Homo sapiens: one gene and its partners. The protein of the gene in region 4 purifies or fractionates together with the protein of the main gene of each other region. This does not show direct contact. Each region holds a gene or a part of one and is shown on either strand. Other genes may lie near its edges.

Region 1 (5,166 bases), on a different chromosome or scaffold from region 4:
TTTTTAAGTTTATAAAGTCAGAAAATCACTGTAAGGTAAGGTTGATTTATTTCTGAAGGGAGAACACTTTTTTACAGTAAATTTAGTGTAGCCTAGGTATACTGTTAACGTCTTAGGCCTTCATGTTCATTTACCACTCACTAACTCACCCAAAACAATTTTCAGTCCTGCAAACTCCATTCATCATAAGTCCCCTGTATGGGTGTGTACCATTTTTTACCTTTTATATCTTATTTTTACTGTAGCTTTTCTATATTTAGATACGTAAATATTTACCATTGTTACAGTTTCCTACAGCATTCAGTACAGTAACATGATACATAGGTTTGTAGCATAGGAGCACAATAGGCTATTCCACATAACCTAAGTGTGTAGTAGTCTATACCATCTAGGTTTGTGAAAGTACACTGTATGCTCACACAGTGATGAAATTGCTGAATGATACATTTCTCAGAATGTATCTCCATTGTTAAGTATGTATTATTGTACTTACTGTTCAGCATCTCAAATCCAAAATCTGAAATGCTCCAATGAAGAAGCATTTGGAGCTTTGATTGAAATGTTGGCACTCCAAAAGCAAGGATTTGGGATTTTTTGATTTCAGATGTGCAACCTATTAATAATTATATTAAATGTAAGTATGTTGAATGTTGTAACATTCAGGGATTGGCAGAATGGGTTTACAAAAAAAAAAAAATTAGAATCCAGCTTTATGCTGTCTACAAGAGATAGACTTTAGATTCACAGACACAAATAGGTTAAAGTAACAGGATGGAAAAAGATATACCATGTAAGTAGTAGTCAAGAAAAATGGTAGAATGGCTATATTTAGGTCGAACAGAATATACTTAGAGTAGAAATCAGTACTAGAAACAAAGACATTTTATAATGGTAAAAGAATCAATAGTGAAAAGATACATCAATTATCAACACACCTCAAAACAAACTTTTTGTAGATATATGAAAAGAAAATCTGTGATATTTAAGGGAAAAACAGATATTTTGACTGAAGTTGTTGAAAAATACTCCACTTTTGATATTTCATAGAAAAACTGGACAGAAAATTGGCAGAGTTTTAGAAGACTTGAATAACATTGTCAATCTGACATAACAGACATCCAAAGACCACTTCAGCCAACAGTAGAAGCATGCACATTCTTCTCAAGCAAGTGTTAGTAACAGTCTCCAGGGGACACCATATTTAAGACTAAAAATAAGTCAATAAATTTAAAATGCTTGAAGACATACAAAACAGTTTTCTGTCAATAAATTTAAAATGATTGAAGACATACAAAACAGTTTTCTGACCAAAATGGAATTAAATTAAAAATCAACAATAGTTACTTTGAGACATCTGCAAGTATTTGGAAATTACATGACACATTACTAAATAACCATTAGTCAAAGAAGAAATAACAAAGGAAATGTAAAAGGATTTTAAACTGAATGAAAATGGAAACACATCATATCACAATTTGTGGTATCAGCCAAAGCAGTGTTGATAGAGAATTGTGTATCCTTAAGTGTCTGTCTTTAAAAAGAATAACAAAGCTAACTGAAGACAAGCAGAAGGAAGGAAATAATAAAGGTTAGAGTAGAAATTAGTGATAGAGACAGACAGGAATAGAGACTGCCTGTGATGGTGGATGCCAAATGAGTGATCTTATCGGAGTGCAGAAATACTCTAAAACTGATTTATGGTAATAGTTGAACTGCTGGTTAAATTTAGTAAAGATCGTTGAATTGCATACAATATTTTTAGTGTGTGTATTTTATTATATGCAAAATATATCTAAATAATGGTTTTTTAAAACAAATATGGGAAATAAGATTATATAGCATTATGTTTATCCAGATGTCCCATAATGTTTATATTAACATTTTTTTCATGACATCATTAAAACAAAGATTGATTTTTAAGTTTCCAGTTATTTTGACCCCTTAATACTCTCTTTCTAGAGCCAATCTTATATTTGAAAAGGATTCCTTTTCCTTTGTTTTCTGGCTGTTAGAGATTAGACATCATATGTGAAACTTTTAATGAAAAAACCAAAAACCAGTTAAAATTAACTTTGCTTTCCATTTCTGCATTTACTACATTTATCTAATTTTGTTTTGTTTTAGATCACTGTGTCCACTACTATGATCTTCGTAACACTAAACAGCCAATCATGGTATTCAAAGGACACCGTAAAGCAGTCTCTTATGCAAAGTTTGTGAGTGGTGAGGAAATTGTCTCTGCGTGAGTATTACTCTCCTCAGAGGTTGAGCTTAATACAGAGCTCTGTACTTACCTACCAGCTTGTAATGTCACTGAGGGTGTATGTAAACTATAATATTGGAGTATATGTACTTTTTCTTAAATAGTAGATTTTTTTTTTAATCTTGTCCAATTAAAGTAGTGTGGTTTCTGGTCTGTATTGTGCACTTTTATATGTGAATTGTGGGTAAAATCCTGAAGATACTAGTTTTTTATATACCCTCCCCCCTTATCTCATCCTCCTATGTTTAATTGCATTTGAACTTCAGATTAGATTTTAGCTATTGCTTCTAAAGAAGAGATAAACAACATAGTTGATGCAATAGAATGAGAAGTATTTTATTTATTAAAGTCAACTCATGTGTTACTGTGTATTTTATCTACTTGCAGTATAGTAGTAGAATTATTTTTGGTTTTAAATATTACTTGGTTGGCTTTTACACTGACATGGTCATTTATCTGTGATTTCATGGTGACTTTAAATATGTTGAAAAGAAAACTTTTTTTTTTTGGCACAGAGTCTCGCTCTGTCACCCAGGCTGGAGTGCAGTGGTGTGATCTCCGCTCACTGCAGCATCTGCCCCCCAGGTTCAAGTGATTCTCCTGCCTCAGCCTCCCAAGTAGCTGGGACTACAGGCACGTGCTACCACGCCCGACTAATTTTTGTATTTTTAGTAGAGACGGTGTTTTGCTATGTTGGCCAGGCTGGTCTCGAACTCCAGACCTCAGGTGGTCCACCTGCCTCGGCCTACCAAATTGCTTGGAATACAAGCGTGAGCCACCACGCCTGGCCGACAGATGAACGTGCTAACTCAGTCTGGCTCCAGAGCCTGCATTCTTAACCAGCAAACTGCATTGCCTCTAATTAGTAGTGATGAGTTTCGTGCCAAGAAATTTTAAGTAAGTTCTTACTCTTTGTACTTTTCCTCAGCTCAACAGACAGTCAGCTAAAACTGTGGAATGTAGGGAAACCATACTGCCTACGTTCCTTCAAGGGTCATATCAATGAAAAAAACTTTGTAGGCCTGGCTTCCAATGGAGATTATATAGCTTGTGGTAAGTGAAACCATCGTTTCCAGGAACTTTTTAACAGGTGTTTGTTATTGAAATTGAACTCAGTGGAAATAGAATAAATACTAAGTCAAGAAATGGTCTGTGCACTCAGAAGATAGTATAATAGACATGATGCCCCAGCACTACTGATTTTCCTTGTGTTGTACTAGAAGAGCATTAGTCCTTCCCTTTTTTATTGTGTAGAAACCCTGAACACCTCAAATACCTGAACACCTGATTTTTAACTGTTTTATAGTTGTTCTCCATTATAACATAATTCTTTAGATATTGTGTAGAAGACAGAAAAGGTTAAGTTCTGTTAGTAATATTTCCAATTTTGGAGACATTATGTGTCTTCTTAAGCTTGATATTCATTTTCCCCTATCTGCTGTTCTCTTCATGAAGTAATCTGTTTGCATAGCATTGATCTGTTATTCTATGGCTTTTATTGTTGATAATTTATACAAATTTAAATAAGAAATAGAAAAATCAAATTTGATATTATTCAAATGCTCTGATACATCTAATGCCTGAATAGATGAGCTTTGATCATACTTTTAAATGACTTGGCCTTTGTTCAGCAAAGTTGACTTTCTCCACATATGTATGAGACTGCCAAAGCAAATATCTGGAACAATTATTCTATCTTTAATAGATGGCTCAAAAATAAAAATACAGTTCATAGACCATTAATAGAATAATTCCTATACTGAGAAATGGAAATAAATTATGTAGGCTATGAAAATCTGCCTGTGTAAGTGTTGCCACTTTCTTTTACCTCTCTAAATGGAAATCTTCCTAAATGTAATTTAAGATTCTTATAATATATTTCTGGTTCTACTATAGACTTATTAGGCTGGTGCAAAAGTAATTAAAAGTAATGACAAAACCCACAATTACTTTTGTACCAACCTCTATAAATGATTTTATAGGGTAATTTTAGCCTTAGAATTATCAGTATTGTTGTATCATTTAACACTGATTGTTTCTTTAGATTAGTAAAGTATAGCTTTTGTCCAAGAATCCTTTTCTTACATGATTTCTAATTAGTCCTGTGATCTAGCCTTTCAAATTTGCCCATAAAAGATCTTTGAACTATAACTTTGGCTGATAATTACTATTAGACTGTGATGTCCTAATTCCGAGTTTTTCTATTCTAAAATACTATTATTATTATTTGTTTTCAGGAAGTGAAAATAACTCTCTCTACCTGTACTATAAAGGACTTTCTAAGACTTTGCTAACTTTTAAGTTTGATACAGTCAAAAGTGTTCTCGACAAAGACCGAAAAGAAGATGATACAAATGAATTTGTTAGTGCTGTGTGCTGGAGGGCACTACCAGATGGGGTAAGTTTTCATATCAGTTTTTTCACCTTGGGATCTCATATTATGCATTATGTATACACAGGGTTTGATTAAATTTTAAAATATAAATTGGTATGTGGTATGTACTTTTTAAAAAACTTTGTAATGTGTCACCAAAGACAATAGGCATTTTAGGTAGTGATTGAAATGCATAGTAATAGAGCAATGTCATGGTGTCATAATGTCCCTCTGTGACCCATAGCATTTAGTGCATATCTCAGTTATAACCATTATCATATTGTCTGTTCATATCTCTTCTATAAGACTGGAAATTCCTCCAAAATATGCATTCTGTCTCATTTTCTTTATTGATTATGTGCAGTATAAGCTTGATAAACATTAAGCTGAGCTGGTATTTTAATAGGGAGGGAGAAAAAGAATTGGTACAGGTAAAGGATAGTGGCCTATATGGTCCTCTAATTAAGTACTATTTCAAAGTAGAATTGCTGTCTACAAAATACATTTATATATGAATATTTAAGCATAT
Region 2 (5,166 bases), on a different chromosome or scaffold from region 4:
TGTTCAAATAATGTTGTAAACAACTGATGTGGAATCAGACTTTACAAATGCATTCCTGTATTTGCTATATTAGATGCTATTTATCTTATAATAAGGTAAAGAATAATCATTCAATTTTTTTTCTTTAAAAAGAGAGAAAAACAAGAGAAAGAGAAAAAAATAGCTACTACTATATCAAATTGCATTTTGGTCTAGCAGGTTTAAGTAGGACCTTCCTGTACTCAGAAATCAAGACCTTAAAATGAATGACATACAAACTTGACTAAGACATTACAACAGAGCCCCGTGACTATTATTTCAGATATAGGAAATGTGAACTCTAGAATTTTGGAGACACAAGGGACCTTTGAGGACAAGGCTAACTCCACTGATTCCCAGCTGAGGACATTCTCGGATCTGACCAGGATCACATAGCTTCAAGGCGGAGCAGAGGCAAGGACGGGGTCTCCAGACCTCCAGATCAGAGCCACCGTCCTGAGAACTCAGAGGAGGTGCTGGAAGACACTGTTCTCTAGAACGTCACTATTTTCGTTTGCTCCTGATTTAGACAAATTATGGGCAATCACTGTTTCAGGCCTTTTGACACCCGGACAAGGGTTGGTGGTGACAACAGCTTTCCTGTGGGTCCTCAATGCAACTGTGGGCTTTCTCTGACACACAGAGATTCCACTCAGTATTTCTTATGATTATGGAGTGGCGAATCCAATCTACCTTTTAATGAACATGGCAAGCTTACATCATTGTTAGTGTCCTGATTTCTCTATACAGCATTTTCAACCTTTCTGGCTCTCTCGATAAAGTAGTTACAATGCAGCACTTCGAATTATTGCAACAACCTGTTAATCTGGTGGTTGCAACATGAAGAGTGTAGCTGCAGTACAATCAACCCAGCAAATCATACAATCAAACTTGTACACGTGCACGAACATTTTAAAAATTGCTTTCCTGCCAACTTTTTCTACACTTGGAAAAATGTGTAGAAAAGCACAAGAAAAAACCAGTAGAAGGAAATGGCAATGGTGGGCGCCTCGCACACAGCACGTCTGGAAGGTGGAACAGAGACCCTCCACACGGCTGGGGCGCAGGGCAGACGCCACACCATCCGTGAGTTACCTTGTTATCTACCCTCAGCGTCCTCACTCAAACATTAAAAAAATGCTTTCCCGCCAATTTTTTCTACAATTGGAATAATTTACAGAAGAAAATAGCTATGAAGCCTGTCAATCAGATAATAAATAATGTTCATCTGTGGGTCAAATGTACAACTTGCCCATTCCTGACAGTGTGAAGATGGGACTAGGACTTCCAATGATGGTGCAGATGTATGTGTAGGGTCATTTACTGGGAATTGGCAAATTCCGGGATAACTCTGATCTTACAAGTTCACGGCTTGTATATATTCAATCAATACTGCCAACTGGGGTAATAGAATAAAATAAGCTACAATGAGTGTATCAAACAGGGGCCTTGTTTTCTGTTTCAGTTGGCTTTTGTGGGAAAGGGAAGCCCTGGGGCTAGGAGAGCAGTCCTTGCCCTCTGGGAAGGGTCCCAGGCGGCACTGCCCCAGGAGGGCCTTCGTGGAGGCCACGGCCAGCCCTCGGGTGTTCTCTCCCTAACTCAAGCTTCTGCTTTCAAGCTCGTGCATGTTGTAGTAGAATGTGTACTCCCCACGTGGAGGCTCTCTTCCTCCTTTCCCTGAAAGAGGCCTCCACTCCATGTAAAGAGGCTGGTCATATAGAGAAGTTGGTCACATGGAGAAGCTGCTCATATAGAGAAACCGGTCATATACAGAAGCTGCTCATAGAGAGAAGCTGGTCATACAGAGAAGCTAGTCATATGGAGAAGCTGGTCATACAGAGAAGCTAGTCATATGGAGAAGCTGGTCATACAGAGAAGCTAGTCATATGGAGAAGCTGGTCATATAGAGAAGCTGCTCAAAGATGGAAGCTGGTCATATAGAGAAACTGGTCATATGAACAAGCTGGTCATACAGAGAAGCTAGTCATATGGAGAAGCTGGTCATATGAAGAAGCTGCTCATATAGGGAAGCTGGTTGTATGGAGAAGCTGGTTGTATAGAGAAGCTGTTCATATTGCTGGTGCTGGAACAGACCCGTAGAGCACCTGAGTGGAGCAGCCACAGGGAAGCAGAGGCCTGGGCCTGCATTTCCAGGAAGATGCTCATCCCAGCTACCTTGGCTGTGAGCAGGGGAGGGTTCTGGCTGGTGCTGGAGACCCCTGCTGTCACCAGGCAGGGCAGGCCAGGCTTTGAGGCATGCTTTGGAAGGGGATGGTTGGAGGAAGAAGGAGGGGCTTAAGCAGCGAGATGCAGAGAACTCCAAGGTGTGGAGGCACCAGACAGAGGCGACTATGGGGCGTGAGTGGGGCTCTTCCCGGGAAATATGGCGTCTCCCCAGACACTTACCATCACAAAAGAGTAGCCGATCCACAGCGAGGACCACCCGCTGGGGCACGGTGGGATCTGAATGGTCTGGCTGTGCACGGCCATCACCATGGCAGGCGCCTCACACACAGCACACCTGGAAGTGGAGCAGAGACACTCAGCACAGCCGGGGTGCAGGGCAGAGGCCGCCCTCCATGCACTGCCCCGTTACCTACACTCAACATCCTCACTCAGTCTTTCTGGTCCAATTACATATTAAGTAGAAAACATTGTGCCCATTGCTTAGACTCTGAGGTTTAGTACCTCCCCGTTGGTTTTATAAGCCTGTCTCAGTATTAAAACATTCAATTCAAAAATAGAGCAGGATGGCTGGGGGCGGTGGCTCATGTCTATAATCCCAGCACTTTGGGAGGCCGAGGCGGGTGGATCACCTGAGGTCAGGAGTTCAAGTCCAGCCTGACCAACATGGAGAAACGCTGTCTCTACTAAAAATACAAAAAATTAGCTGGGTGTGGTGGCACATGCCTGTAATCCCAGCTACTCGGGAGGCTGAGGCAGGAGAATCACTTGAACCTGGGAGGCGGAGGTTGCAGTGAGCCGAGATTGTGTCAATGCACTCCAGCCTGGGCAACAAGAGTGAAACTCCGTCTCAAAAAAAAAATTAGAGCAGGACACAGGCCTGTAGTCCTGGCTACTGGGGAGGCTGAGGCAGGACTGCCTGAGGCCAGGAGTTCAAGGCTGCAGGGAGCTATGCTCGGCCTGCCTGTGGGCCACTGCTCTACGGCCTGGGCAACATAGCGAGACCTGCCCCTAAAATATTGTTTAAAAAATAGATCCAACACGAGTTATTTAACTGTCTGTCTTGTAGAAGGGGAAAATAGGAAGGCAAAGCTCTAACAGTGGCTCTCCTGGAGGGGCTGGGGTTACAGGCAACTTTTCTTCTTTGGGCATTTGAGTGTTTTCCAATCTTTCAACAATGCATACGTATTTCCACAAGCACAATAAATGCTTCAGAAAAAATGCTGGTGAAATCCAAGAGCTACTCCTTCTGGAATGCAACAGTTTGAAGCTACTAATAATCTTTAGTATAAGAAATGCACTTAGTGAGTTGAGTAACTAAGACAAATAATGCATGCTTTAATGAACTTAAGGCTGAATGTCCACATGGGCCTCCTGCGGGAAACTTGTCTTTTTGGTCTGCCCTCTTGGCTCAGATGTCCAAGGTCCAAGGCTGTCAGCATCCACTGCCGCTGAAGTGACCTCCAGAGGACCCTCCCAAGGACAGGATGCCTCCCAAGCCAGGCTGATTCAGCTCAGCCTTGGGACTGCACCAGAAACACATTAAAACAGCACAGTGTTCTGACTAAGACCCTCTCAATGAAGGGAACCCTTGATGGTGGGATAATGCTTTGTTTAAAAAAAAATTAAACGTCAACAGTGAATAATTACATTCAAGTCACAAAATGAACAGAGTGTTAACAATGCTGATAAATGACTATAAATGGTGTCAATAATTACACCTAGTTATACTGGGACATTTGCATGAACGTGGATCAGAAGGGGGAATAGGGCTGAATGAGTCATTTGATTTTCCATGGACTTGTGTGTGTGTCTGTCTGTGTGTGTGTGTATGTGTGGTGTGTGCAATTTTCTATTTTATTCACCCAAATGCAGATGAATTAAAAGGTTCAGTTAAACAACAGTGACTGAAATTGGCCTTATACATCTGCCACCATCTGTTTGCTAGACACGAGACCTAGAAATACAGCCTGGAGGGAAGGGTTTTGTCTTTTTCAGACTGTCTCTGGGCTGAGGGATTCAAGGGTCCTGCCCCATTGCAGGCTTAAAGAGCTGTGTGATTCCTTAAAATTCACATGGCCAAATTCTCCATATTGCATATGAAGAAACTAAGGCCAGGGTTAGTTGTGTCCAAGACAGAACGAAAATGCAGTTCTCCTTGCTCTCAATCCAGCGGTCTTTTCGTCAGAGCAATTAGCAATCAGTATTTATTTCGTGAGTCTTGTCTGCAGAAAGCTAGAAAGTACTTAGAAAATTGTGCCCTACTATCGGATGAAAGCTGGAAAACTGCCACCTTTTCTGCTCAAAACGAAGGCTTTTGTGTCATTTGCTGTTTCTAAAATTTAGCTTTCGGACCTCCCTAAAGGGAAGAGCTGAGAAGGAACCTGTAAGTCCTGAGAAGTCGTGGAAACCACTAAGTTCAGTAACCGTGGAAACCTGCTTGCTCAGAGACAGGGACAAAGGGGCAGCCTCTCTACGAGAGGGAAGTAGAGGCAGACTTGATGCAAAAGCAGCAGCTTCAAGTACATGCCTGGGAAGGTCCCTTCATGCTGAGCTTCGATGTGTCAACTAACAGGAAGACATAAAAATCTGGAAATGTAAAGTCCTGGGACATTTCAGGACTTTCTGGTCCAATGACATGTTAAGTGGGAAATGCTGTGCCCCATTGCTTAGACTCTAAGGTTTAGCACCTCCCCGTTGGCTTTAGAAGCTCATCTCAGGATCAAAACATACAGAGACTTAGACTCTTGGTGCTCAAAGACCAGGGGTGTTTTACTGAGAGGAATGCATCACACAGAAATGCTGGTCTCAGACACACAGCTTCTCTGAGACCTGTTTTTGGACTACCACCAGGGCATGCCAGAGCTCCTGTCAAGGAGCTCTGAATCAAGGTCAAATGTCAACATTGCCAAGAAAGTAAACAGGAAACCTATCAATGAATAGTCTTTTTCTACCTGTTGTGTA
Region 3 (5,166 bases), on a different chromosome or scaffold from region 4:
TTGATTATTGGATTTATCAGAACATAATATTGAGTTAGGTCAAAACTCAGACATGAGCAGGTACAGCATGATGGATGAAGAGGAGGCTCTGTCAAGCTGCCTGGCTTCAAATCGTGTTCTCTAAGTTAAAATCTCAATGGCTTCCCTGTGCCTCAGTTTCCTCACCTAGAAAATGATGATGATGATGTTTCTCAAATGGAGTTAATATACATTAGAATGATGTCCGTCACAGAATGGCACTACATTAGCATTCACATTCATTTTTATTAATAAATGTGAATTATTAATTAATCAATGTGAATGCTTTGACAGACATACACTGAATTCATCCTATTAAGTAGAGGTGAAATTCAACAGGAACAAAGAGAAGGGAGACTCACACTGAAGGCATTCTTGTCTCTTACCAGCTTCCACAGGCTCTGTCAGTCTCCACCTCAGCCTTGCCCTGGGCTGGCACCTGCCGGGGCGGCAGTGGCCCAGACGCCTACCCAACCTTACTGTACACTTGCGGGCTCTCAGGTGCTCCCAGGGCCGGCGCAGTGGGCTGCAGTTCCCACAGGTGGCCACACGAGGGCATCTCCGGCGTCAGCCGGCAGCCACAGCCTTGGGAGGCCAGGGAGCACTAGGGGGCCCCCAGGTGTTCATCCGGTTCCCTTCTAGTCTGGGAGGAGCCGAGGGCAGGGTCCAGGAGGCAGGACTTACAGGAATTTGATTGGCATAGACAGTGGCCAATCAGATGTCCGGGCTGTGGGAGCGGAGGCCCTGGGGGAGGGCGGGTATGACTACTGACCCCTCGCCAGGGCGGCACCTGTGCAGACCCAGCCACGTTTAGCTGACTGTGGGCCCGAAGGAGGCCGGCCATGGGGCGTCGGCCGCCTCTGAAGGAACCGATGGCCCACGCCCACAGTACCTACCCGAGGGCTCAAACGTGCGCTGAAAACACGCCCGCGGGGCCACTGGCACAAGCGGAACCCGCCGCTTACCTTGGGCTGCGTATCGACAGGAGCCGTCCTCCACCAGCACGTTATAGAAAGGCTGGTGGTGGCCGTGCGGCAGGCTGTGGACGTTCATGTTCCGGATCCACTCGTGTCCCATCATGCAGGTGGGGTCCCAGCCGTAGATCACACAGTTATAGCCATACCTAGTTAACACAGGAGGAGCAGTCAGTCCCTGCAGACCCGGCCGCAACAACCTCCAGACAACCGCGTGGCTTCTCAGCTCACATCCTCAGTTACCTGCTTTACTCCACGGTGAATCATTTTTCAGGACACCCCTAACCCCTTTTATAAACACCTCTTATTATCAACATAGCACTTTATCTGGAAAAGAATAAACTTTTCAACAAAAAGTGATTAGATGACAACTGGTTACCCAAAAGAAAAAGGTATGGGGACCTGGCCTGACAACAGCACACCAAATTCAATTCTCAGTACAGCAAAGACTCAGGTGTTAAATGCAGAACTTCTAAAATAGAAAGTATCTTCATGACTCAAGATAGGGAAGGTTTGTTAAAACAAGGCACTAAAAATACAGCCGTAAAGGAAAAGACTAACCAATCTGACATCACTAAAACCAAGAGACTAACAAATCCTGATCCAAACATGTAAAAATATGAGACAACTGGGGAAATAGGAACTCTCATTAGATACTGCATGAAGTTAAGGAACTGGGGTTTTCTAGATGTGATAATAAGATGTTAAATATGAAAAGACAGAGAAGGAGAGAGCACCCCTGCCTTTTAGAGGTACATACTGAAATCGCTACAGGTGAAATGGCATCTGGCACTTGCGTCAATTAACCCAGGGAGGAAGGTCTGGAGGGTGCAGGGGACAGTAAGATTCACCCCGTATGGCAGCTGTTGAGGCTGGATGACAGGAACACCACCTGGTTCCTTATAGTCCTTTCTCTCTTATAAATCTTTGCAAATTTCCATTTAAAAGTTTAAAAAAATGCAATAAAGAATGAAAACCACCAGCCAAAAACTGGGAAAAGATATTTGCAACTTATCGTCATGTAGATACTGATACACAGAAGAACAACTACATATCATATTAGGGAGGACTAATAACTCAATAGAAAAAAATACACGAAATGGGCTGGGTGTGGTGGCTCACGCCTGTAATCCTAGTACTTTGGGAGCCTGAGACGGCAGATCACTTGAGGTCAGGAGTTAGTGACGTGCCTGGCCAACATGGTGAAACCCTGTCTTTACTAAAACACAAAAAATTAGCCAGGCGTGGTGGTGTGCGCCTGTAGTCCCAGCTACCTGGGAGGCTGAGGCATGAGAGTCGCTTGAACTGGGAGGCAGAGGTTGCAGGTGAGCTGAGATACAACACTGCACTCCAGCCTGGGCAACAGACCCAGACTGTCTCCAAAGAAAAAAAAAAAAAGAAAAAAAGAAAAGAAAAATGAAATGTTTGAATAGGCGCTTAATAAAAGGAAATTTGGAACTTGGATAGCCAGTAAATATATGAAAAGAACCTTAACGTGTTTAGTAACCCAGGAAACAGAAATTAAAACCACAGTGAAACACTATTTGCCCTTTCTCAGGTAAGTACACTTTTAAAGGTCTGGCAATAGCACCAGGCGAGAATAGGAACTCCAGGCTCCCAGCCTGCTGGTGGGATGTAAACTGCTCCAATCACTTTGGATACAGTTTAATTTTGCCTGGTAAATAGACCAAGTGCCTATCGGATTTGAAGAGACTGAGATTAAGTGACAAGATATAAGAACAATGAGGAAATGAGAGAAAAAACTCGTGTCTTACAAAGTTACTTCCATGTTCTCACACACAGAGAAGGGTCAAACATCTAAAGGCCACTAAAAACACTAGAAGATCTCTCAGGAAAGTAAGCTGCTGCTTAAAAAACACAAAGGTCAAAGACACGGTTCAAAAAGAAAAAAAAAGAGGTTCAGCTTTCTGTCTTCCCCGCGGTGCGCACTCGGGGGATAAGTGATCCAGTCAGCTCCTCCTCCACTGTGTCCTGGGGGCTCACCAGGTGCATGTGTGTCTCTGCAGCCCCTCTGGAACGGACACTGCAGGACAGATGATCCCGGGCACTCACCTCTTATGCTTCATAATGAGCCCGATGGAGTAGCAGACATCTCTGTGCTTCTCATCGGAGCGCAGCTTCACCTCTACGCCCACCTCCTCCTTTTTGCGCTCAATGTGCTCTAGAGTGTGCTGCACCAGGTAGCCCACCGCCCCGTGCTGCCCCGGGTCTAGGGTTTGGATGTGCTGGAGGATGTCAAGCACCTTCAAAACAAGACAGAAAGACTAAAAGATAATATTTTCAGCTAGGCCTTTTCTTTTTTGCGGCGAGGGATTTAGACCTACCTACGTAACCTAACAAAGCAAAGGACCAAAAGGGGTGGCTATGCCCTGATCGAACCGGTCCAGGTCTCTGGACCATCCTCTGATGGACCGCCACCAAATCGGCACTGCAGATGCCCAGGGTTGGGCTCTACTGTAACACTGGCAGCTGGCCCAGGATACCCCAATTCAACCAGTGTCAACCTGAGGAGTTCTTTGGAAACCAGTGTGCTGGGATAAGCGCTGGGGACGCAGGTGAGGGCCCACCACCTAGGGCACTCTGGATGAGGTGGGCTCTAACAGCACCTAGCATGCTTGGTCGGCATGGGAAATGTGAGAATCCACGTTTTTTCAATACACAGGAATGATTTTCACTTGCCACTCACGAATTCAGAGGGGAAAAAAAAATGCTAAATTGCTTTAATCGAGACGAAGAGGATGTCTGACACAACTGCCTCAGTGCTGGAAAAGATGGAAAAGGTCACAGAGTGGGCACCAAAGGGATGCATTCGTTGAGTTTATGAAGCTACACTAGAAGGAGGGAGCCACGTATATCAGAGTTCTAAAATCCTGCTGGTCACTTCAGTGGTCTTAACTCATCATGGTATTTGGTATTCAGCAGGCAGCAGGAGAAACTACATCTATGCAGAGGTTAAACTAGTAGCACAGAGTAGCAGCCCTGTCTGACTCCACTATTACCGCCTCTACTGCACACAGTGCCTCTGTGGAAAAAACTCCACGTTTAAAAAGACACAGACATACAATTATTTCGCACCCATTACGTTTACAGCCCTTAGCATAGAATTTCTGACAAGGTTCTCCTTCCAATTTACTGAGTCCTGGATTACAGCCTGCTTAGTGCGTTACAGCAACCTGGACTCTAGGCCCAGATCGGTCAGACTAGCTGGCGTTTTTACCTCTGAATTCCTTTCTTAGCTTATCAAATCATGAGTAATCACTGTCCTATTTGCTGATGCATTGTGAGCCTGTCAAAGTATTGTGAAAACTCCAGTTTTATGCACCATGTTATTATCTTGCCTTTCAGACTGCGACGTGCTGGACCTCAACATTTACTGAACACTATTCTCTGCTGGTCACTGTGCCAAGTCCATCAGGTTTTTTGTTTCACTTAATCCTTCCCATTTGAAGGTCAGTAATTTCTTGATCTTCAAATTGGGAGGATTAGGTGGAAAAAAAAAAAAAGCTTTTAATCACTGCCACTTCCCGAACAGGACTCAGGCTTAGTGAAGTGACTTTCCCGGGGTCACAGGGTTGTGGAGAGGTGGAGTGAGGCTGTGGCTCTGGGTGTGAAGATCAACTCTTGGTCTCAACCAGTGTCATATCCTAGCAAGAGCAGGAGCATTTTAAATTAACTACTACAAAAAGTTCCAAACACATAAAAATGGACAAAGCAGTATAATCCCAAGTACCCCAAACCCAGTTTTGACAAGAATCAACAGACAGCCAATCCCCCTGTGCCTCTACCTCCAGCCGGGTGCTTTTAATTGTGGGACACTCGCAGATTTACCCTTTACTTTAATAGGAAGCGCCTACTGACAGTGCCTGCATAATGGCTGTCCTTGTGGCCTGAAAGAGTACCAACAAGCCGCTTTTTCTGCCCCTCCACTGTGTTCCACACACACAGCTCCCCTTCTCTCCTAGCAGCCACCTCCCCATCAGATAAGTAAAATGGTCAGAACTTGGCATCGTCAGAGAACAGAGGAAGTCTAGATAAGGTCAAGGATAATTACCCCCACCTTCGCTGGATGTGTGGCTGAGCGCGAAGGGAGAGGGCAGAAATGAAGACATTGTGCCTCGGGGCCTGGCGTATTTGCAGACAGTGTTGACCCAGG
Region 4 (5,166 bases):
AAATCCAACAGAACAAATGGCACAGTATTAAAATATCATCTTTAAAAACCACCAGAAAATTTCACGGAACAACCAATGGGTAAATTGCAAGGAGATGAATCTAAGAAGGGGCTGTGTGATTCAGCCTAATTTTCTTTCCTACTTAATTAATTAGTTGCAATATTTTTTTATCTTATAAAAACAACTTTTAGCTATTTAGAATATTAAGTACACATTATGCTTTTAAAACACCATCTAGTCTTAATCAACAGAGACGCTACTACCAAAAATTAAGCGCTTGCAACAAAAGCATACTATACTTGGTCAGTGATTGCTATTTCTCCACTAACCTTGTGCTTTACCACAAGCCTTTTAAAACCCCAATTAAGCTAGCAGAGCCTAGCAAACTGAGCTTAAAGCAATTGTTGTTAATCCTCATAAGTAAATACAAACCTTTCTTTTGTGAGTTGGAATAAAAAAGCAAACTCCTGGCAAAATAAAACTTTGACAGAATTTCATCCTCCCAGCTCTGGAGAGATAAGCAATGTTGTACACTTTAAAAAGCAGGGCTTATATTTTAGAAAGCTCTCCTTCCTTCCTTCACCTAAATTACTTCATCTCTCTATTGTGTGCTGCTTTGTTGAAGGGCTTTGGCAATTCAGGGTGAAGCCTTTAAACTTCTCTTATAGAAGATATGAATTTGAAAATTTTTAATTGGGATTAGATATGTATAGCTTGATAACTGTGTACAATACTTGTCTTAATTTGACAAGCATTTTAAATAAAATAGGAAGTAAGGTAACTAGTGTTTGACAGATCCTTTAAAAAAGCTTATACTCCAAAGTTAAATATAACTTTTCAATGTTCCAGTTTTTGTTTCATTTTTTAATGTTCCATGCCTTTTCTGATGCTGTGCAAATAGTCGCAAAAGAGGTTAAAACTTCTTTATCTACTCTAAAACACATTCCTAGAGGATTTTAAGAATTTATGTAACTGTACTTTACGCAGATCTCTGCTTTTGTTCTCTATCCATCACCTATACTTATTTTCAATCCTACAGATTTTAGAAGAATGTACACAAAGTTATTCATTCAGGGTTCTATTGGCTTTTACACTCTTTCGTACTGAGACAGGGGAAATGCCGTATGCCAGGCCAGGCAATCCTGTAACATTTATAGCAAGAAGAGTCAACCAGCATTCTATCCATTTATAAAAATGTGAAGATATTGCTAGTGGCTTTTCTTTTCTGTAGAACCATTGACTCTTTGAGGTCTTATGATTCAACTTTCCTGTAAGCATCATAAATAAAATGTATTCATTATTCCTGAAAAACACTGCCACCTAAGAAAAAGGATGAGAAGCCACCATAATTACCTGAAAGATGGCTTCTTTCTGCAGTTTCTGATACCAAACAGACTTGATAAATTCACGAATATATAACTATATAAGTTACAATCATGCAATTTTACTTTTGGAAAACTGCAGCAAACTCATTATACAGAATTATAACACGGATGAGATGTTTGGTTGTTCCTCGTCTCTTGCTCCTGGCTTAGGCTAGCAGGAAGCAGGTTCTCAAGAAATCTTTGTTAAATGAATGTTGAATAACTTGCATTTTTGTTTTATTGCTTTGAAATGTTATGTCTTTATTTTTTATTCATTCTGTGAAATTTATGAGCATTTCAGTATATGGCCATAAAATAAATCTAAGGTATTTAAATTTTCTCAATTTTAAATAATTACAATTCAAAATTGTTTGATTGATTTAAAAAGAGGGAGAGAGAGAGGGAAAAAGAAAAAAAAAACACTTGAAACAATAATACAACAACTTGAAGATTCTGAAAGGTTAAGAAAATTGCCCAAAGTTATTTAAACAGCAAATGCCAAAGTTGGGATATTTTAGTGTAACCTTGAGTCCAAATGCCTGTGATCTTTTAAATTTGTCACACAAGCACCACTTAATGGAGCATGCATTGAAATTAGAGATTAATTCCCTCACTCTTCAAATAACCAACAAATAACCAACAGCTGTAAGGGGGAACAGAAAATTTCTCTTCATTTGTTTCAGGTTTTGGGTAATGTCCCATAATTTTCCCATAATTTTTAAAAATTAAATTCAGGACATGTTTATGTAGGCTGTGGTTTCTCAATAAATGCTAAGTGGTGATAATGATCAATAAAAATTCATCCAACACAATTATAAAATCCATGATTCCTGCCTATATATATTTAACCGATACTAATTAGATCAGTATTCAGAAAAATTAAAATTGGCAACAGTTCCTTAAGTGTGTACCAAATGTTTTACATTTAATTTTGGCCTATTTTTTATTCCACTGCATTGATAATATATTCCGGGCCCTTCAGTATTCACAACCTAAATTTTCATTTTAGACCTCATTGGATTTGTTCTTCCATGCACTTCAAGCCAATGTTTATACAGGGAATACATTCTGTGAGTATACCCTTATTCAGGTCATTGATGCAAAATAAAATTCAACAGGTAAGCAGAATAAATTATCATAAGAGATGATATAAATCAAAGGCAATATACAAGTAACTGTATGATTTCATTATTTACTGTTACTCTAAATAAAACATTTACAAAATTGATCAAAATTGAAAACCTTTTGTAAAATGTAAAATTACACTAGTTTACTCGCTTTATTTTGAGCTAATAGAAGGAAAATATTAATCCTCAATTTTTTCAATCCACGACCTAATCTATTTAAACTGAAGATAAGAAAACTGTATGTATGATTCTTAAATATGACTGAATAAATAAAGTAAGCTTCATTACAAATTAGTCAGTTGGCATTTCATGTTGGACTTTCTGTTGGTCCATGATCACTTTGGAAAGATTTCGGAGTTATTCATCAAATGTGTCATTAATTTTTAAGAGTTCAATTTATAAATGAGTCTATCTTCTGAAAATAAAATGGCAGCTAATTAAGATATAGGTAAGCATATTTCTCATAACTGCACTCATTTTAGAACTGTTGAAGCCTTTTGGATACTCTTAAAGTAAAAATTTTCTTTATTTTATTAAACTCCTATTACATGAGCTCAATGTAATGTTGTTTATTAAAGGAATGAGTAAGAAAAAACCGTATTTCATTCAAGCTTACCTTGAACTGGTCCATTTTGCATGATTTCTTTCATTATCTCAGTTTCCTGGATGGAAAAATATGAATAAGCAATATCATTGTTATCAGAGCATACTAAACCCATTGATTGGTGTACAATGTTAAGTGTTTGCAATTTACTCTCAATTGTACTTTGAAAAACTCACGTATATTATGCTACATTAATGAAATTGTTAAAGACAAGATGCACCCATTTGTTTTAATGACATTTATCACTAAATAGTAAATTTGGAGTGGAGACAAAATACAATAGCCTTTTATGGTTATAAAGAAACAATGTAAGTTAAAGCAATATTTAATTAGTGGAGATTACTAGTACCTCTAATTTTTTTCTCACAAGAGATATCCCAAATGATTGTTTAGTTAGATGTCTCAGTAGCTTTAGTACAAATATTTCTATGATGTCTCCTAATGTTTAATGAAGCCCTCTGTAGGGAGGCAGGGCACTCATTCATCCATTTTTCTGTACATATTGAGCACAAAGTACATGCCAGAAACTATGACAGGAACAAATATTGACCCTGCACCTATACTCAAGGTATTTACATTTTGGTTGAATGACACTACTAATTTCATTATTATTTAATAAGATCCATTGTAGAGACAAGCGCAAAGTGTTACGTTTGCAAACAAAAAAGGAAAATTAATTCTGCCTGGAAATCAAGGAAAACGTCACAGAGAAGATGAAGTTTTTACCTGGGCCTTGACATTTGCTTGGCATTCTAGATGGAAAGGCTTGATAACCATTTGCATCAGAGGAATTATCACCTAGCTAAGTGGAAAAGTATAACAGAGCATGGTGTACCTGGGGAAAAGAGACTAGTTCTATGTATTAGGAGCATTATGGCTGGGTAGAGTGGCAGATGCTGGCAGGACATGAGTGTATAAAAGTAGTACGTCAAAACCAACTCATGAAAGGCCAATGTGCTATGGTTAGAACACCGAATTGTATTCTGGAGATAATTAGAAGACACTGGAGGTTCACAAATTCTGAAAACGAGAAGGCTTGGGGAACACTGATATGAAGAAGTAAATTCGCCTAGGCTTTTAACAGACAAACTAGAATCCAAGGGACTCTTTTTTCTATTAGACCCAGGTCCTCTTAAATTATTTTGTTGAGTGAGGCAAAGGATTGATAAAATGAGCTAATACCACAAAAAAGTCAGTGAAAAAGTGTTTAACTTAACTTTTAATTGTCAAGTTCAAATATATGTATATACACATATTATGAAACATAATTTTAAAACCCTATTTCCTTGGACATTTTAAAATTTAAGTCAGTCCTTTACACTGCTAATGTTACAAAGATAAGACATCATACCCAAACTGAAAGTCCTTAAAAATATTAAAAATTATACATGAAAATATAATATTTATTTTAGAATATAATAGTTTTAATTAGTTTTTAAATTGTTTTAGTTACAGTAGAGCTATATACATTTGAGAAAGCCAACTATTCTTGATTCTTGCCATTTATACTTACGTTGGAAGAGACTCTGTATGGAGGAGAACATTGATAGATCCTGTTAGATTTTTCTACGTTGTTGGGACATGGCTTCGTGGCATGCCGTTTTCCTCGCCCATCAGACCTGCTTGCCATGGCACATCCATTGTTGGTAGCATTTTGGTCTTTGAAAAGTGGGTAGCATGCGTGGGATACCAGTCTATGAGGAATAAGCAAAGAAGCAAAGGTAATATTTAGGAGAATGTCGTAATATCCTTTTTATATTTAATCTTACTGAATTAAACATTCATAAATTATTCTGGTTACTTACATGCATAATTTTCAAAATAGTGAGTGACTCCAACACAGAAGCTCAATGACATTACACTCTTCCCTACCCTCCTCTTATTTTTTCATTATAATTTTAAAAATCTTGCTTTGATCAATTTTTATAAATAATTCTATCTGTAGTATAGAATTTCCTGAAGATAAAAAATGGCTGTCAATATTAAGTCTGTGGTAATATTAATAGGGGAAGGACCCCTTCAACCTGTTTATATAATTATAATTTGGAAGAGCTAAATTTAAAATTTAATA
Region 5 (5,166 bases), on a different chromosome or scaffold from region 4:
AACTAATATGCTTCATTGCTTTCATTTATTAAGGTCATAAGGATCCCTTACTATTATAGTTTTTCTAGAAATCTAAGAATTTTGGTCCTTAAAGGGTAGTACTGAGACCACCACCAGCAGCAGCAGCAGCAGCAAAAACAGAAACAGCCAGGAAGATCACCTGAATTTTCAGGTCCCACCATAGACCTACTGAATCAGAAACTCTGGGGATAGGGCCCAGCAATCTGTTTTAAGATTCCAGGTGATTTTGATGCAATCTACAATGTGAGAATCTGTGTCTTACTCTGAGGGAAGTCTTCTCTCAACTTTCCTATGTCTCTGAAGCTAATCAGCCACTTCAAAATTCTACTCTACACTTAAATTACACGATTTTAAACAACTGTTTGGCACAATAATGTAAATATTATTAAGAAGTAATTGTTCAAATCATTGAAAAATTGGTTTGCTTTACCTGAAATTCAACATAAAAATGATCATTTACTTTACAAATTTACATAATTAGTGCCAACATGTTTTACTCTGCAATAAATTTATTCCCTGATCCCAATTCAGTGCTACTATTTGAGTAGTGAAGTTTAATTATATGTGTAAAATATATTCAAGCATATCCTTTGGAAAACTAAACACTAAAGTTGTTCTCTGTGCGTCTGTCTACTGATTGAGGCAAACTTCATCTATTTAAAAGCACTATGTAATAGTCCTATTTAAAAGCACTATGTAATAGATACTGTAGTCCCCCTTGTCCAGTTTTGCTTTCTGTGATTTCAGTTATACAAGGTCAACCATAGTCTCGAAGTGTTACATCACTACTCTTGTGCTTCGGGGCATTAATAAGGAAAATAAGGGTTATTTGAATCCAAGTACTGTGATACTGGGACAGCTGATCTGATAACAGGGAAGGCTACTAAGTAACTAATGGATAGGTAGCCTATGGATCATGGATACACTGGATATGGGGAAGATTCACGGCCTGGTGGGACAGAGCAGGATGGTGAGAGATTTCATCACATTACTCAGAACAGCATGCAATTTAAAACTTAAGAGTTTTTTTCTGGAATTTTCCATTTAGGTCATAATGCCTGTCATTCACCTCACTTCACCTCATCGTGCAGGTGAATACAAAAGGGTGAATACAAAACAATATTTTGAGAGAGACCACATTCACATAACTTTTATTACACTATACTTTTATAACTGTTCTAATTTATTGTTAGTTACTGTTAATCTCTTACTGTGCCTAACTTATAAGTTAAACTTTATCATAAATATGTGTGATAGGAAAAAACATGGTATATATACATAGGGTTTGGTACTATCTGCGGTTACAGGTGCCCACTGGGGGTCTTGGAACACATCCTGTGCAGATAGGGTGGAACCACCGTAATCATTTAATCAAATAACTCATTCCACATGAATAAACTATTTGCTTAGCTGTAACAAGCAAGAAATTGGGTGAACGTCTAAAAAGTTAATTCTGCTCATCATGAGTTTGAAACTGACCTGCAACTCCTACTTGATGTGAAGCATATCCTGGTAATCTGCTGGGCCCTTCTCTCAGCCACAGAGTCAACGTTGATGAATCCGATTCTGCGTGGTGAAAGCAGAAGCCCAGGGAAGCAGCAGGGGCAATAAATCGGCTTTGGAGGATGGGAATGTGCAGCCATACAGCTGTTCTACCTTCTGATCGCCATTGCTGTACTGCAGCTAAATGCAGAAGAAAAAAGTCTAAATAATTTCCAAAGAGACGAGTGGAATAAATTAAAACTCACCTCAGGGTTTCGCCTCCTCCAGGAAACCATCTTTAAGCAAAAGAGGTCCCCAAATGTCTTGTTCACATCGCTGGCACTGGAAGTACCATGTTTTATAGTAACCACCTTGTTTATATGATTTTTCCATCAGACTGAATTCCTTCAGAATAAAGTCATTACACTGCTGACCTTTATATCCATACCACCAAAGACAATGCTTGGCACGTAACAGATGTTCTGTAGTTTTAGAGTGGACAAATAAAAGGATTTAAACCGAATCAAATACCATTTGAATGCTGTTCCTTTTAACATCCTTAGGTTTAATCTTAAAGACAATTATGGACTTCTATTTTTTTCTTCCTTTAGGAGTTCTGTTATAATGTTTTTAATGTATAAATTTCAAGGTAGTTAAACTTTGTTTTTAAATAATGTATGCTGGTTGTAGAAATTTTGAAAATAAAAAATATGAAGAAATCAAACTTCACATTTTACTAGCATATAGGAATAAAATTCTAATTTTTCCTTATTATAGATAATATCATGGTGAACATAATTATAGGTTTTCTATCTTTGCCTTCTTTAAATTCTCTTTACTACTTAAGATTGAGCCAGGGGAAAAAGATGCTAATATCTATTTGAAACTTACTAAGTTCCAAGCACTTTATATATATTATCTCATTAAGTGCACAACCATGAAAGGTATTACTACCTTAAGTTTATGGGTGAAGAAATAAATACTTCAGATTTAGAGTTTTTAGAAAAGCTTTTCAGATCACTTTCTTCATCCATCATCTCACTTAATCTTTATAATAACGCTATAAAGCGTGTGTGTGTGTCTGTCTTTGGGGGTTGATTATATATCAAATAGTTAATTAACTTTCCCTTCTCTTTTCCCTAGCTCTGCAGGAAGCTCCTCTCTTTAAGGACAATGTTCTCTACCTCTTTGAAAGTTGCTGTGCCTAGCACAGTGACAGGCACATGGGGCCTTTAATAAAGACTTCCTGATTTGAGTTAGCATGCAGTGGAATTATGGGATCAGGTCCTTCTCACCTTGCTCTCTTTGTCTGATGACATCTTTTAAAAATTGAGGTAAAGTACATAAAGTGAAATGTACAAATCTTAAGTGTACATTTCATGCGATTTGACATATGCATATGCCCGTAACACACTTTAACATTATAGAACATTTCTATCACTCCATACATTTCACATGTGCTCCTTCCCAGGCAATCCTTCCAATCAAATTAAAAGGCTACTTTCTAAAAGCAATGCTATTTGCTTGCTGTTTTATATCTACACTCTGTGTCTTGGAGAATCCACTCTCACTGCTTCAGCTGATACATACATGAGGATGGCTGCCCAGCCCTGACCTCACTGAACACTAAACTTTCTGTTCTCCAGTTGCTCCCAGACATTTCCTGTCCTGAAGGTTACCACTTCAGACTTCACAAAGTGTGTTCAAAACTGAATCTTTTGTTGTTGTTGTTGAGACGGAGTCTTGCTCTGTCACCAGGATGGAGTGCAATGGTGCAATCTCGGCTCACTGCAACCTCTGCTTCCTAGGTTCAAGCGATTCTCCTGTCTCAGCCTCCCAAGTAGCTGGAATTACAGGTGCGTGCCACCATGCCCAGCTAAGTTTTGTATTTTTAGTAAAGACGGGGTTTCATCATATTGGCCAGGATGGTCTTGATCTCTTGACCTCGTGATCTGCCCGCCTCGGCCTCCCAAAGTGCTGGGATTATAGGCGTGACCCACCGCGCCTGGCCAAAACTGAATCTTACACCCCAAACTAGCTTCATTTATAAGCTTATTTATTTCTGGCACCAATGCTTGAAACCTTAGAATCATTTTTAAATTGCTTTCTTCTTTTCCCTAATAAGCTTTATTGCTTTTTCTTCCCTCACCTCCCATTCCCATTGCTAATATCTATCCTTTAAAGTCCAGCTCATATTCCACATCTTTGACCAGTCTTTCCTAACCACTGCTCATGAGCTCACCATTATGAATTTAAAGACTACTATGTCTGTACAATTTATTAGAACTTATTACATATGACCTAATGATATCTCTTCCATTAGCTATTTTTTCCAATTCTATTTAATATTCCATGCATTTGCAATCCTCCAGGGTAACCCTACATTATGCACTGGGGCTCAATTTGTACTAATGAAATGACTGGCTTGCCTAAAGTCACATAGCTGGTGAGTGGCATAGCAGGGACCAGAACCAGTGCTATTTCATTACTGATGCAGATATGTTATGTGTGAAGCTAACAACATATTGCCTGTTTATCCCTCTAACTTCAGTTGTTGGTAACAAAACATCAATAGTTCATGTTCTAAAAGAATATGAATAGTTGACTTCTTATTCCACCAAGAATATGGACTTCTTAGTCCATAAAGACTAAGAATAGCGGACTTCATGTGTAAATAGTCTCTCTTTATAGGCACTACCATTCAGTTAGTTTTGTTCAATTATAACAACAGAACCAGCAGGAGTTCTTCAAGGTAGCATAGTGCAGTAAGAAAGGTGTAGAGCCAGGGCAAGTAAATTTTTCTCTCTGTGCCTCACTACTGTCATCTTTAAAATAGGAATAATAATGCTATCTACCTCAAAGGGTTGTTAGGAGGATTAATTACTATTTATAAAGATCCTAAAACATCTACCATTAAGTGCAACAAAATTTGTTTTATTGAAAAAATATAACAAGTATTTGGTACTTAAGTTTACAAATTAGTTTCATCTTTGATCAACGCATCTATCCAGTAATTAGAGCTGGCGTTATTCACAAAAAGCAAGCTAAGAAGCAAATATTTTTGGTGGCAATTTGCCTAATGCCTGGCTAAGCACATGGCAGAACCTGGTACTTAAACCCAGAATGTGCACCTCCAAATCGCACAGCTTTCTGCTTTGTCATGCTGACTGGGGTAGTGCTTTGATCACCTGTTTGGTCATTGATAAGTATCAGTGGGTACAACACCTGTGTCTACCCACACACTGGAAGATAAAACGATTGATTCTCCTATTAGTGACACTGTTGCAGTATAAGCGGGCTTGTCAGCAATTACTAGCAAGTAGGAGAGAAAATAATGTGAAGAGGTAAGAAGTCTGGGAATGAGGATGAGTAAACATTGAAATAACTAGCTCAATTATATTTACAGATATGCTTCTTGCCATATTGCTCAATAGGATAAAGATTATTTTGAGTTTCCAGTGTGAGAGATTTTTCCATAGTTGAATTTGCATGCTATGCCTTCAATTAGATTATAAAACCCTCAGAGGCCGTTTGAAAAACTGCTGCACCACTAAATCGACTTCTTCCAAAGTGAAGGCTCCTCCATCCAAGCTTTCTTATCATTGGGCTCAAGGTTGAAAGCCAGTAAAAAGTTTTCTTATTGAAGACTGAAACCACCCACCA
Region 6 (5,166 bases), about 14 Mb from region 4:
GGCCCCGGGGTCTTTGAGTCCATCCCCTGCCACAGCATAGCAATCAGTTCTCCAGCCTCTTGGAAGGGAGGGACGGGGGCTCTGCCTAAAACTGGTGGATTGAATCACATCCACAGCGGGCTCCGAGAAGCCACCAACAGCCCATCATAATCCTAGACTCACTGCCCCTGAGGTCAGCCATACCCAGTGGGTGAGCCACACTATGCGACCTGCAGGCCCAACCCCTTCTTCCCTCCCTCAACCCATCCCTGGTCACTGACCATCAAAGGGCATATACTCTATGAAGCGCACATCCAGGGGGAGGCCCTCAGTCAAGGCCGCAAAGTCCAGGAGTTCATCCTCGTTAAGGCCTCGCATCACCACACAGTTCACCTGGCCGGGGAACAATGGGACCATGAGGGCTGTGCCCCCTGCATTCTTTTGTGGAGATGACCCTTGGGGGCCTGGCACTCACTGAGGCCTTCCACTCAGGGACCCATTCCTTGCTTCTCCCACTCAGTTCTCTAAGTTACGGGATTCCTTGGGGTCACTGATTTTCTCGTTTCTCTCAAGGGTCGGCAGGGCTGGACCAGCAGGGAGAGAAGAGGTGGAAGGGTGCACGTACTTCAGCCATGCTGGCCAGAGCTGAGGGCTCTCAAGTGGGCCAAGGGGCGGTGAGGGGAAGGCCAGGGCAGTGTGGAGGGAAGTCGGGAATCTACGGCAGGGGCACGGCCTCACCTTCACAGGGTTGTAGCCCAGCTCGATGGCCTTGTGGATGCCCTCCATGACCTTGTGGAAGCCTGGGAGGGAGAAACAAGGATCCAGGAACTTCTGTCCTCTCTCCTCTTCCCCCACACCCCCACAGAAAAGCACCAGAGCCCATCTAGTCTGGAGATTGGCAAACGTTTTCTAAAACAGGCCAGAGTAATATCGTAGGCTTTGCAAGCCAAGAGGCAAAATTGAGGATCCGTGTAAGTACATGTCACAAAGTGTTGGCTAAATTCAAAATGTAATAGTAATAACTGACTACAGTGTCTTGTAAAACAGATCTACAAATGGGATACAATAATGCGATTCTTTTTGCAGGGACAATATTTTGCTTAAATGGGGTTCATAGTTAATGTTCCCTATCATTAACTGATTTTGAATGCTATCTGTAAAATGCATTCTTGGCTCAAAGGCTACATGAAAACAGGCAGGGGGCTAGATGTGGCCTGTGGGCCATAGCATGCTGACCCTGGATCTAGTTGAACCCTCTTGTAGTCTACGGGAGGAAACCAAGACCCAGAGTGAGGCAATGCTCTGCTCAAAGCCCCATGGCTCCATCTTTCAGAATGCAGGTTTTCCACTCCCGTTTCAGTGTTTTTTCCTCAACAGTCCATCAATTATTCACTCAACACATACTCTCTGAGCACCTACTACGCACAGGTGCTGTTCCAGGGCTGGTAAGCAATTATTGTCTCAACAATCATTAACCACAGTCAATGTGACCCCAGGCTGACTTCTCACTGCCCAGTTCTCTCATGCATCCAATCACTTGATCACCTACTGCATCCTGGCCCCCTCCAGCACCCCCAGCCTGCACAGCCTGGGTGGTCACCTGTGAGACAGGGTGCCTAGAGATGGCCTCCATGGTTTCCTTGCAGCATTTTCAGACTGCTCAGTGAGAGGGTAAAGGGAAAAATGTATAGCTTTGAAAAAAATAATGCTGCTAGGATAACCTAGAACTATAAGTTTTCTTTTCTGTAAAACACTCCCCTCCAAAGGCAGGTGGTGGACAAAAGAGTATGAATGGGAGGGAAGATCTGATGTCTCCAATCCATGTGCCAGGAAATAAGAGACAAAAAGGGAGAACGTGTTTGCGGGCAGTACAGCCCACAGATCCACCTCCCACTTTCCCACCGTAGAGCCCTTGCAGGTTCTGTACTCCTGCTCCCCCTCAGAGTATGTGCCATTGATTGAAACCCTCCAGTTCCTCAAGGCCAGCATGCATGCATCCTCCTTGAAGCCCTCCTAGTTCTCTCCTGCTAAGAGTTCTTTCTTCCTCTCTGTAACTCTTTAATCAGTACCACAAGACAAGCAAAGGCTGTCCCATGGAATGACATCTTTTGGCCCTTAGCAGCCTGTAAGGACAGGGCAATGTCTTATGTGTCTTCTGTCCCCTCCACAGCACCTGGAGCAGGCCTCCATAGAGGAAAGAGACACCATGAGTGCTTCCTCAGCACATGGAGGGTATTAAGCAAGGCATCACACCCCGTTTAAGAAAAGGAAGGAAAGAAGGTGGTGGGGCTGATCTTGAAGCTGTTTCCAAGGAAGAGGAAGGAGATCTGGGTCTCCCTGCCACCCCTCTGATCCTCCAGAGTCCTCAGTCATGTACCCCCTCCCAAATATCAAAGGGTATCCCAACCTGAAGAGCCTTTGCCCCAACATGAGGTCCATGCCAAAGGGAAGCCAGGCACTGGTCTCCTGTGACCCAGAGCTCGAGGCTGGCTCCACCTGTCTACCTTGGGCCTCCTGAGGCAGGTGAGTGGAGGGTATGGCTGTGCCTGTAGTAGGAGGTGCATAGGAGGGGCTTATACCCAGGTGGGCACAGGGATAACCATGGGGGCCTGCTGGGGGACCCCCTCCTGGCAGCATACACCCAGACCCTGGCATCCCAGGGTGGCTACTTCCACCCTGGGCTGTCCCGTGTTTCTTCAGAGCTCATCGTAGAATGACCAACTCGGCCCAGTTTGCCACAGACTGTCTTGGTTTTAAAACTTCAAGTCCTTCATTCTAAAACCCCCTCAAGTCCTGGGCAAACTGGGGCTGGGGTGGTGGGGAGGTTGGTCACCCTAGGTCATTAGCGTCTGACCCCCAAAGTCCCTGACATACATTTGGCAAAGATGAGGGGTGAGAAATAAGTGCTTTGACTTACTGATAGCCCAGACACCAAGAGGAAGTGACCAGGCCCCTGGCTCAGCAATGGCCATGCCCTCCCCAGCTATGTGCAGGCCCTGGGAGGGACACCCACCCCATCCACATCCGCTCACCTTTCCTGCGGACAATGAACTCAAACTTGGCAGGCACCAGGGTGTCCAGGCTGATGTTGATGGCACTGAGACCAGCCTTCTGAAGCTGGGGCAGTAGCCGGGCCAGGTTGATGCCATTGGTGGTAACACCTATGGTTCTCAGCCCTTCCAGCCGCTGGAGCTGGGCTGTAAGGACAACAGAAAGGGGGTCAGACTGCTTGCTTGTTCTTGGTGAGGCCGGGAAAAGGGCTGGAAGGCAAAACTCTTTGTCCAGACAAGATGGATGGAAAAGAGGCTCTCTGCAGACCTATATTAACCAGGCCTAACTTAAAAAGAAAGCTAAGAATCAAAACTGACAAAAACAACCAAAAGATTAAGCATTGAGTGCTCTGTGCTAGGTGCTCTGCTGAGGGCTTTGCATACATTAGCTCATTGAAGCCTCACAATAACAATTATCTCATTTAGTAGGTAAGGAAAGAGGTGCTCTGAAAGATTATGAAAATTGCTTAATCTCACACAGTAAGAAGAGCTGGCATTTAAATCCATGTGTACTTGACTCAGGACTCTGCTCTTAACAACCAAGTACTACACAGGTCTTGATACTCTGTATAATGGAAACAAAAGTGTTTGAATTAAGTGCTATTTGACAGCTCCATTCTACCAAATATCCCTAGAAATAATGGAAGGATTTTAAAAATCCATAATAGCATTGGAAGGTAAGAAAGAATGCCGTAGATAGCCCAGAAAGGTAAATTAGTACTGAAAGAGAGAAAGCAGATGGAACCGACCAGACGGATAGAGACCACAGCTCAAAGTGCACCCAGGAGAAGGTTCTGTAAAAACAGGGAGTGACTAGTGTGCACGCAGCTTAGTAGTCACATGTACAGGAGCAGAGGGGTCCTACTACATGTCAGGGAGGTTGTCTAAGAGGGGAGTTATATTTGAAGGAGCTGGACAGGTTGGCCTCATCCTTCCCTGTCGGCACGGGAAGGCAGCAGAAGCATTTGCCTCAAGGATAAAGCACCAGTGCAGACACTTAAGCCAGCCATGGGGCTGTATTAGTTCCTTCTCATGCTGCTAATAAAGAAATACCTGAGACTGGGTAATTTATAAAGAAAAGAGGTTTCATTGACTCACAGTTCAGCATGGTTAGGGAGGCCTCAGGAAACTTACAATCATGGCAGAAGAGGAAGCAAACACGTCCTTCTTCACATGGCAGCAGCAAGAAATGTTGAGCAAAACAGGAAAAGCCCCTTATAAAAATCATCAGATCTCGTCAAAACTCACTATCATGAGAACAGCATGAGGGTAACCACCCCCATTATTAAATTACCTCCTACTGGGTCCCTCCCATGACACGTGGGGATTATGGGAACTACAATTCAAGAAGAGATTTGGGTGGGGACACAGCCAAACCATTTCGGGGGCAAGGCCTGAGTCCTGGTGACACTCAGCAGTACCTCACACCCCTTCTCCACAACCTTGGAGCAACCCAAACAGAAACACAACACAAACAACATTGCCGGGCAGGCCAACAGAGACCTCAGGCACTAAGATGAGTACACCGCCAAGAATCAACAAACATTTAAGGAAGAAGCATGAAAGAAAGATAACTACTTCCCCAAATAGAAGAATGAAAGGAGGAGGAGAAGGAACAGTGATAACAGAAGATAATTCTTTTAAAAAGCAGAGGGAATATCCTTATTGGGATAAATATTCAATCTTGAAAATAAACCAAGAAAAAACCCTAATTAGGGCTCTTGAAAATTAAACAATATATAGTTACAAGAAGAAAAAACTTGAGAAGCAGAATGAACACAGGAATGAATGAGCAAACTGGAAAATTCAGCAAAGGCATTCTTGAAGAGCTGGATACAAAAGATCAAAGAATGAAAAGAATGAGTCTGAAGAAACACACCTGCTCACATTCAAATCCAAGAAGATCTAGAGAAAAGATAAGCTATGAAAATGTACACAGTAGTTATCTGTGATCAATAGGATCATAGGTGATTTTTGTATTTATTTATAGGTAAAATTTCTTTCTATAACAAACACGTTTTCTTTGATAATGTGGGTGACACACATACACACCCCTCCCCCTGAATTTTAGCTGACCTTTGCTACATGGACAGTGCCACTGACTACACCCTTCCAGCCACCAGACCAGTTGTTTCCA

What was found.
Region 1: the proteins of TINAG (region 4) and COP1 purify together in Homo sapiens (affinity purification with mass spectrometry; 2 studies listed by BioGRID and IntAct, with this or other methods). This does not show direct contact.
Region 2: the proteins of TINAG (region 4) and COL4A1 purify together in Homo sapiens (affinity purification with mass spectrometry; 2 studies listed by BioGRID and IntAct, with this or other methods). This does not show direct contact.
Region 3: the proteins of TINAG (region 4) and FBXO21 purify together in Homo sapiens (affinity purification with mass spectrometry; one large-scale study listed by BioGRID and IntAct). This does not show direct contact.
Region 5: the proteins of TINAG (region 4) and NUDT6 purify together in Homo sapiens (affinity purification with mass spectrometry; 2 studies listed by BioGRID and IntAct, with this or other methods). This does not show direct contact.
Region 6: the proteins of TINAG (region 4) and MOCS1 purify together in Homo sapiens (affinity purification with mass spectrometry; 2 studies listed by BioGRID and IntAct, with this or other methods). This does not show direct contact.

What each region holds. Positions count from the first base shown.
Region 1 is NC_000001.11:175,986,438-175,991,603, reverse strand, and holds part of COP1 (E3 ubiquitin-protein ligase COP1), read left to right. Parts: intron 1-2,124; coding exon 2,125-2,242; intron 2,243-3,191; coding exon 3,192-3,316; intron 3,317-4,500; coding exon 4,501-4,661; intron 4,662-5,166. UniProt on the Homo sapiens protein: E3 ubiquitin-protein ligase that mediates ubiquitination and subsequent proteasomal degradation of target proteins.
Region 2 is NC_000013.11:110,152,859-110,158,024, forward strand, and holds part of COL4A1 (collagen alpha-1(IV) chain isoform 1 preproprotein), read right to left. Parts: intron 2,540-5,166; coding exon 2,425-2,539; intron 1-2,424. UniProt on the Homo sapiens protein: Type IV collagen is the major structural component of glomerular basement membranes (GBM), forming a 'chicken-wire' meshwork together with laminins, proteoglycans and entactin/nidogen.
Region 3 is NC_000012.12:117,154,808-117,159,973, forward strand, and holds part of FBXO21 (F-box only protein 21), read right to left. Parts: intron 3,278-5,166; coding exon of another isoform or gene 3,257-3,277; coding exon 3,066-3,256; intron 1,142-3,065; coding exon 984-1,141; intron 1-983. UniProt on the Homo sapiens protein: Substrate-recognition component of the SCF (SKP1-CUL1-F-box protein)-type E3 ubiquitin ligase complex.
Region 4 is NC_000006.12:54,349,339-54,354,504, reverse strand, and holds part of TINAG (tubulointerstitial nephritis antigen), read right to left. Parts: intron 4,790-5,166; coding exon 4,609-4,789; intron 3,154-4,608; coding exon 3,108-3,153; intron 1-3,107. UniProt on the Homo sapiens protein: Mediates adhesion of proximal tubule epithelial cells via integrins alpha3-beta1 and alphaV-beta3. This is a non catalytic peptidase C1 family protein.
Region 5 is NC_000004.12:122,916,001-122,921,166, forward strand, and holds part of NUDT6 (nucleoside diphosphate-linked moiety X motif 6), read right to left. Parts: intron 1,705-5,166; coding exon 1,501-1,704; intron 1-1,500. UniProt on the Homo sapiens protein: May contribute to the regulation of cell proliferation.
Region 6 is NC_000006.12:39,913,057-39,918,222, forward strand, and holds part of MOCS1 (molybdenum cofactor biosynthesis protein 1), read right to left. Parts: intron 3,177-5,166; coding exon 3,012-3,176; intron 780-3,011; coding exon 718-779; intron 373-717; coding exon 261-372; intron 1-260. UniProt on the Homo sapiens protein: Isoform MOCS1A and isoform MOCS1B probably form a complex that catalyzes the conversion of 5'-GTP to cyclic pyranopterin monophosphate (cPMP).